Regions from separate parts of the Homo sapiens genome. Here region 2 is linked to region 1. The links come from fine-mapping of genetic effects on gene expression. Tissue or cell type: T cells. Region 1 holds a variant in brackets; the other region holds the start of a gene. All regions are shown on one strand. Distances are from middle to middle.

Evidence for each region. PIP is the estimated chance that this variant, and not a neighbour inherited with it, causes the effect.
Region 2: VPS35L starts here. The variant in region 1 is fine-mapped to the expression of VPS35L in T cells (GENCORD, PIP 0.95).

The regions. Positions count from the first base shown.
Region 1 is chr16:19,621,659-19,625,658 of GRCh38, forward strand. The region is part of intron 14 of VPS35L (VPS35 endosomal protein sorting factor like); the gene reads left to right. Among named protein-coding and RNA genes, the nearest start is that of VPS35L, 68 kb to the left of the region's middle. The variant ATTATTATTATTATTATTG/A (reference allele first, on the strand shown) is at 2,141.
Region 2 is chr16:19,553,486-19,557,658 of GRCh38, forward strand. VPS35L (VPS35 endosomal protein sorting factor like) reads left to right here and starts at 2,218. Exons shown (of 31, transcript NM_020314.7): 1 at 2,218-2,261. The coding sequence starts at 2,245. RefSeq lists enhancers at 1,813-2,292, 1,852-2,814, 2,673-2,902.

The sequences.
Region 1 (4,000 bases):
GATAATCAATTCTGTCACTTCTTAGAGGGGAAAAAATCAGTAACCTCCAGCAGACCTGCCCGAGGATCTATAACATTTGGCTCTCCGAACACTTACATGTATTCCCAAGTTCCTTTATGACAACAGAGCCTTTGGTTTTTTAAAGTTATATTCTTGGATGCATTTTTAGTGCATTCATCTTTTGTGAGAGAGGGAACTTTTTAAGCATTTAACTTGTCTTAGTGGTAAGAATCTTTTGTCCATATGTTGGGATTTGCCCTAGTTAATCTTTCCAGAATTGGTGGGCCAGGAGGTCTCATTTATGTGTGTGTGTATGTGTGCATGTGTGTGTGCACGTGCATGCATATGAGATACAGTAAACCTCACGAAGGCATGGGTTTCTGTGTTTTCCTCCCATCTTACCCTCAGTGTCTGGAACAGTGGCTGGTATAGTCATCCCTTGGTATACTTAGGGGATTGATTCCAGGATCTCCATGTATATCTTTTTTTTTTTTTTTTTTTTTTAAGACGGAGTCCTGCTCTGTCACCCAGGCTGGAGTGCAATGGCCCGATCTCCACTCATGGCAACTTCTGCCTCCCGGGTTCAAGCAGTTCTCCTGCCTCAGCCTCCCAAGTAACTGGGACTACAGCCACGCCACCACGCCCGGCTAATTTTTGTATTTTTAGTAGAGACAGGGTCTCATCATCTTGGCCAGGCTGGTCTCGAAATCCTTACCTCAGGTGATCCACCCACCTGAGCCTCCAAAGTGCTGGGATTACAGGCGTGAGCCACTGTGCCCGGCCCCCACGTATATCAAAATCCATGCTGTGAGACTCAAGTCTCACAGTCTCACAGTTGGCCCTGTGGAACCCGTGTATACTTGAGTTTGGTGTCTCACAAATACTGTATTTTCGTTCAGCATATGGTTGAAAAAAATCCGTGTCTAAGTGGATCCACGCAGCTCAAAACCATGTTGTTATTCAAGGGTCAACTGTATACTAAAGTTGCTCGTTAGGTAGGCGTTGAATGATTATTTCTGTGTGTCAGGGAGTGTCAGTGTGATGATTACACAGAATCTCTTTTCCTCTCTTAGCCTTTTCCAAAGGCCACTTTGCTATTGGTCTTTAAGAATGACTTTTCAAATGTAAATACCCAAGAGTGGGTTAGGGAAGCCATTTATGATGTGGTCAATTTTGTCACCAGCTAGGGTGCTTTTGGCTGCAAGGAACAAACATCTAACTAGTCTGGCCTCCACATATAATTCCATGTGTCCTCCTCCACAACAAGTGGAGGCTCTCGGGTGATCAGCTTCAGTGCATCTTTTTGCTCTGCTGTCCCTGATTAGTAGCAAGGTGGGGGCAACCATTCCAGGCATCACGTCCAGAGCCGACAGCATCCAGGGAATCTTTGATTCTTGGGTCCTTGTTTAAGAACAGGAAACCTTTCTCCAAATCCCCCCGAAGACTTCCCATCCTGTCTCAGCAGCTAGAAATGGATCATGGGCAAGGGGAACGAGAGCCACTGTGATTGGTTTGGGTCTGTATTAATCTGCTTGGGCTCCCTTAACAAAATACCCAGACTAGGAGCTTAAACAACAGACTTTATTTTCTCATAGTTCTGAAGGCTAGGAGACCAAGATCAAGGGGCCAGCAAGGTTGGTTTCTGGTGAGGCCTCTCTCCTTGGCTTGGAAACTGCCACCTTCTTGCCGTGTTCTCACATGGCTTTTCCTCTGTGTACACGCATCCTTGCTGTCTCTTCCTATAAGGAGGTTAGTCCTGTGGGATTCGGATCCCACCCTTATGACTCCATTTAACCTAGAATAGTGATATTAGGGGTTAGGGCTCCAACATAGCAATTTAGGGGAGATATAATTCAGTCCGTGACAGAAGCCAACCTAGTTTATGTGAGGCATAGATGGAAATCTGAATAAAATCAGGGTTTTGGGGTAGGGATTCCAACAGTATCTCCAACGTCAGCTCTCACTTATTCAGGCAACATGACAGAGAGGGGTGCCACCAGAAAGGGTGGAATTGCACTTAAGAACCCTCCTTTTATTTTTTTACTTTGGGTCCAGACGTAGATATAGATCCCTTTTTTTTCTTTATTTTTTACTTTTTACTTATTTATTTATTATTATTATTATTATTATTATTATTATT[ATTATTATTATTATTATTG/A]TTTTAAGACAGGGTCTTGCTCTGTTGCCCAGGCTGAAGTGCTGTGGTGCAGTCTTGGCTTACTGCAGTCTCGACCTCCCAGGCTCAAGTGATGCCCCCACCTTAGCCTTCTGACTAGCTGGGACTATAAGCACACACCACCATGCTTGGCTAATTTTTAAATTTCTTTTAGAGATGAGGTTTCGCCATGTTGCCCAGACTGGTCTTGAACTCCTAAGGTCAAGCCATCTGTCCCCATCAGCCTCTCAAAGTGCTGGGATTACAGGCATGAGCCATCGTGCCTACCAGGTCTTTTTTTTTTTTTTTTTTTTTTTTTTTGAGATAGGTCTCACTCTGGTGCCCAGGCTGGAGTTCAGTGGCACAATCACAGCTCACTGCAGCCTCCACCTCCTGGGCTCAAGTGATCCTCCCACCTCAGCCTCCTGAGTAGCTGGGACCACAGGCACGTACCACCACACCCAGCTAATTTTTTAAAAAATTTTATGACTGGGCGCGGTGGCTCACTCCTGTAATCCCAGCACTTTGCAGGGCTGAGGCGGGCAGATTGCCTGAGGTCAGGAGTTCAAGGCCAGCCTGGCTAACAGGGTGAAACCCCATCTCTACTAAAAATACAAAAAAATTAGCCAGGCATGATGGCACACACCTATAGTCCCAGCTACTCGGGAGGCTGAGGCAGGAGAATCTCTTGAACCCAAGAGGCGGAGGTTCTGGTGAGCCGAGATCGCGTCACTGCACTCCAGCCTGGGCAACAGAGTAAGACTCGTCTCTCTGTCTCAAAAAACAAACAAACAAACAAACAAAAATACTTATGTAGAGATGGGATCTCACTATATTGCCCAGACTGGTCTTGAATTCCTGGGCTCAAGCGAGCTTCCCACCTCAGCCTCCCAAAGTGCTGGGATTACAGGCATGAGCCACCACCCCTGGCCTGCACAAATCCCATTTTTGCCACTTATTAGGAAGTGTCTTAACCCTGTCTGAGCTTTGGCTTTTGCATCTGTAAAATGGGGATAATGTTCCATGGACCTCACAAGGACATGGTGAAGAGTAAGAGAGTAAAGGGAAGTCAAGGACTTAGCCCGAAACCTGGGCAGTGCTCAGTGTCCTGTAATTACCTCTGGTCTTGGGCTTGACCTTCCCCAAACCACTGCCCTAAATGATCCTTCTTCCATTGATTTTCTTAAAAACAGGAGCTCTTTTAAAGATATGTAATTGTCTTAAGATAGCTCCAAAGCCATTAACAGTATTCCAATGAGTTAAAAAAAAAAAATCTGCTTCCTTTGGCGGAGGCGGGGAAAATAGACTTCAAACTGTGTTGGAGAAGAAATGTATTGAAGAACGTGGCCTTTGATCCCAGTCTGCCCAGGTTCATGTCTGCCTGCCATCACTAACTGTGCGACCTTGGGTGAAAAACACTGCTATTCGTGGCTTTGTTTTTCATCTGTGAAATGGGAGAATAGAGCCCCTGCTTCAAGGGTGGTTGGGAGAGGTAAGATCGTGAGTGCAAAGTGCTTCTCACCATGGCTGGTGGGCACTAAGCTCTAGCCCAGTGTTTGTTGCTGATATTACTAAGTGCACCTTGGGCACCTCTTAAAATGGGGAAGAATGTGGGGTTACAGAAGAGGTGGGGAGCAGAGTAATTATCGTTCTCATTCATGCCCTGGAGTGCAGGAGTTATCTCCCATCATCCTGTAGTGACCCCACAGATGAGATGATACCACTTGTAGCCTTTCAATAAGGACAAGGAGACCCAGGTTCGACAGAGTTGGCAACTCTTCCGAAGTCTCATCATTGGTAGTTGGTGAGGTTGGATTTGAATCCAAGTGTGCCTGATGCCAGGAC
Region 2 (4,173 bases), 68 kb before region 1:
TCTAGCACTTTGGGAGGCCAAGGTGGGTGGATCATGAGATCAGGAGTTTGAGATCAGCCTGGCTAACATGGTGAAACCCCGTCTCTACTAAAAATACAAAATTAGCTGGGCGTAGTGGTGCATGCCTGTAGTTCCAGCTACTTGGGAGGCTGAAGCAGGAGAATCGCCTGAGCCTGGGATGGGGAGGCTATAGTGAGCCGAGATTGTGCCACTGCACTGCAGCCTGGGTGACAGAGCAAGACTCCATCTCAAAACAAAACAAAAAAGAAACCGATATTAGCCAGGCATGGTGGTTCACATCTGTAGTCCTAGGTACGCTGGAGGCTGAGGCAGGAGGATCACTTGAACCCAGGAGTTACAGGTGGCAGTGAGCTATAATCGCACCACTGCACTCCAGCCTGAATGAGACTTTGTCTCCAAAACAAAAAAGAAAAAAGAAACAGATATTGAAAAGTATTAGGCCAAAACAAATATTGTATATAATCATTCTTTACAAGTTCCATGAAAGATATATCTCATTATTTAATATGTCCCCTGGGCCAGGTGCAGTGGCTCACGCCTGTAATCCCAACACTTTGGGAGGCCAAGGCGGGAGGATCACCTGAGGTCAGGAGTTTGAGACCAGCCTGGCCAACATAGTGAAACCCCGTCTCTACTAAAAGTTGGACTTTTCAGAAGGTAAAACTCAGGCTGGAAATGTCTTAACTTATTAAGAGATAGAAGCCTGCTAAGGGAAGGAGAGGGAGAAAAGAGAATGCGAAGGTTGAAGCTCACATCAAAGCTGTTAATTTGCACAACTTTAAGAATCCTCCTCTTGTTACTGCCTAATCATGCAGTGTGAGCCTAGGAAAAGGCTCCTCACCTTGACCTCTTATTGAGATGTTGCATGTGATAACATGCATGGCTGTATGGGAAGAGCTCCTTGCTTTCCCGTGGCCACCCTTTAACCCTTGTTCACTTCCAGTGTTGGGAATAGCAGGTACGAGTGGATATACTTTCCTACTCATACTGAGCTGAACACTGGAGGGCCCGTTCTGGAGATGATCCTTTTCCCTGTCATAGGTCACCATCTCATGAACAACCACAGACCACCACCCCCGAATGAAAAGTAAGAGTTATAAAAACATCGAATGCTTTCTCTCTAAGGGACCATAATGGATATCTAAGTAAGTTATAAAAGTAATAATTAAAAAAAAAATTTTTTTTTGAGATGGAGTTTCGCTCTTGTAGCCCAGGCTGGAGTGCAATGGCGCAATCTCGGCTCACTGCAACCTCATCCTCCCGGGTTGGAGCAATTCTCCTGCCTCAGCCTCCCGAGTAGCTGGGATTACAGGCGCCCGCCACCATACCCAACTAGTTTTTGTATTTTTTAGTAGAGACGGGGTTTCACCATGTTGGCCAGGCTGGTCCCGAACTCCTGACATCAGGTGAACCACCCACCTCGGCCTCCCGAAGTTCTGGGATCATAGGCCTGAGCCACCGCTCCCGGCCTAAAATAATTTTTAAAAACGTTCTGTGGTCGAAATGGATATCCACCTTCCTAGAAACACTGCTTTGCCAAGTTGGACGAAATGCGAACCCTAATTTCCCCACGTGCATTAGCTGTAGTCAATCATATTAGATCTAGGGCAGCCCTCGGTTGCTAGTCGTGGGAAGGGCATTCTGCAAGTGTCTAAAACCGCCCGCAAAGCAGTGGGTAAAGCAGCGGCCTAGAGGGGGCATGGCTGTCCCACGCCAAACAGCGTATTAGCCGCAAAACCAGGTACTGGCTGAACCTCAGTTTGCGTCTTCGCTCCGCCGCCTTCTGGAGTCCTTTCTGCCCCTAGAGGACGCAGGTGAGCTAAGCAGCAGTCATGCCCTTTACCATCATGACGCCCGCAGGCGGGACCACCCGGCACTGTAGACAGCTGCCCTTTACAATCATGACTCATAGAAACTACGGCACTCTGGCCGTGGCCGACGTTGCTCCTCCGAAGCATGGCGCCGGCGGGAGTTGTAACCCGGGCTGTCCGGAGCGGGGAGCTGCCCCTCACAAGCATGGCGTCAGCTGAAAATGAAGCCTGTGCTGTGCGGAGCGTCGCCTGCCCCTCACAAGCATGGCGTCTGCAGAAGGTGCTGTGCGGCCGCTGCGGGGCGGCCAGCTGCCCTTCACAAACATGGCGGCCGAGGGGTGCGGGGAGTGGCGGGGTAAGGATGGGAAGCCGAGCAGACGGCCCCAGAACAAGCGGTCATGTGACTGGGAAGATGGCCGTCTTTCCTTGGTAAGGAAGCAGCGGCGGGTGGGCTTTGGAGAGGGGCTGTCCTTACTTGTGATGGGGTCGGCCTGGGTCTGAGAGTGTGAATTCCTCTCTGTCGGGTTCTGGTGGTCGACCGGCCACCCCCAAGTTGTCTTGACCGTAGAATCCCTGGCCGCTACCGCGGTCCAGCGGAGCAATCTGAAGCCAGACTGGCGGGTTCTTGGTTCTCTCCCCGTCTGCTGCCTCTCTGCGCCTTCCACGGGCCCCTGTCCATTCATTCCCTAAAGAAAACTTGAGTTTCCAGGCTTCCGCGTCCCCAGAAGTTGGCGCGGGTTCTGGGGTCGCTGGATGAGGGTAATGGTGGACTCAGCTTTTAAAGTCTGGACGAGTCGGGAGATCTGGCTGTTGGTCAGTTTCCTCAGCTCCTCTGTTCACCTGGAGACTTGCTTTTCTCATCTGTAAAATGGCCGCCATTCATCCTATCCTAGGCACAGCCCTCAGACTTATTCCTTGGCCTCAAGGAGCTGACAGTATAATGGGGCAGACGCACAGTAGAGGGATGTCTAAAGAAGGCATTCGGATGAGGCACCAAGAAGGGAGTGATTATCCCCACCAGGGGGCTAGGGGAAGGCTTCAGAGAGGAGGAGTTAAATTGGGTCTTGGAGGATGAATAGGAGTCCACCATAGGGAGGGCGTGGCGTGTGCCTGGTTGGCAGGCCCGTAGGTCCCTTGTGGTTGGAGTAGCTAGGAATGAGTGACTGAAGCTTCAGGGTTCAGCAGGTGGTATGTGTGTGAGTGAAGAACTTGAGGAAGTTGTGTTGTTGATGATAGTGGGATTTGGGGACGGGGAATCTCTCCTGCATCTCAGAAAGCGAGATAATTTACTTTCTCTTCAAATGATGTGAAGTAGCTTAGATTAAATGAGCAAATGAAAGACCTTAGAAATAATCAGGTACAACCTTCTGCTTTTGAGCTTGATAAACACTTCATTTTGTCTTATTCCTTTCATTTGCCCAACACTTAAGAGACTGCTTCCTTGACACGCTACATCAGCATTGAATGCCTCTGAGCACTTCCACACCCTGAGGTTTTTTTTTTTTTTTCAGTTAATAGTCATGCTGGCTGGGTATGGTGGCTCACGCCTGTAATCCCAGCACTTTGGGAGGCCGAGGCTGGCGGATCACCTGAGGTCAGGGGTTCGAGACCAGCCTGGCCAACATGGCGAAACCTAATCTCTACTAAAAATACAAAAATTAGCTGGGCTAAATTAGTGGTGGCACGCACCTGTAATCCCAGCTACTTGGGAGGGTGAGGCAGGAGAGTCGCTTGAACCTGGGAGGCGGAAGCTGGAGTGAACCGAGATCATGCCACTGCACTCCAGCCTGGGCAACAGTGAGACTCTGTCTCAAAAAAATAATAATAAAAAATGAAAAAGTCATGCTGGCTTGACCAAAAAGCTAACCAAAAACATGAGAAACATTTGACTTCAGTGGATTTATCTGAAGTTTGCAATCAGAAAATCCAGGAAGATGCTGTCTTAATCTCTGCATCCCAGTACATTTCTACCTTTGGAATTTTAATTTTATATTACAAGCAGGCAAACAGGTGCCATAACGCTTTTAGTATTTAGGGTCTCTATAGTTCCTAATATGGCCGTGCTCTAAATATTTTGTTGTTGTTGTTTTTGTTGAGACGGAGTCTCGCCCAGGCTTGATTGCAGTGGCGTGATCTTGGCTCACCGCAACCTCCGCCTCCCGGCTCAAGTGATTCTTTGCCTCACTCTCCCGAGTAGCTGGGATTACAGGCGATGCCACCACACCAGGCTAATTTTTGTATTTTTAGTAGAGACGGTGTTTCATCATGTTGGCCAGGCTGGTCTCGAACTCCTGACCTTAAGTGATCCGCCGACCTCGGGTTCCCAAAGTGCTGGGATTAC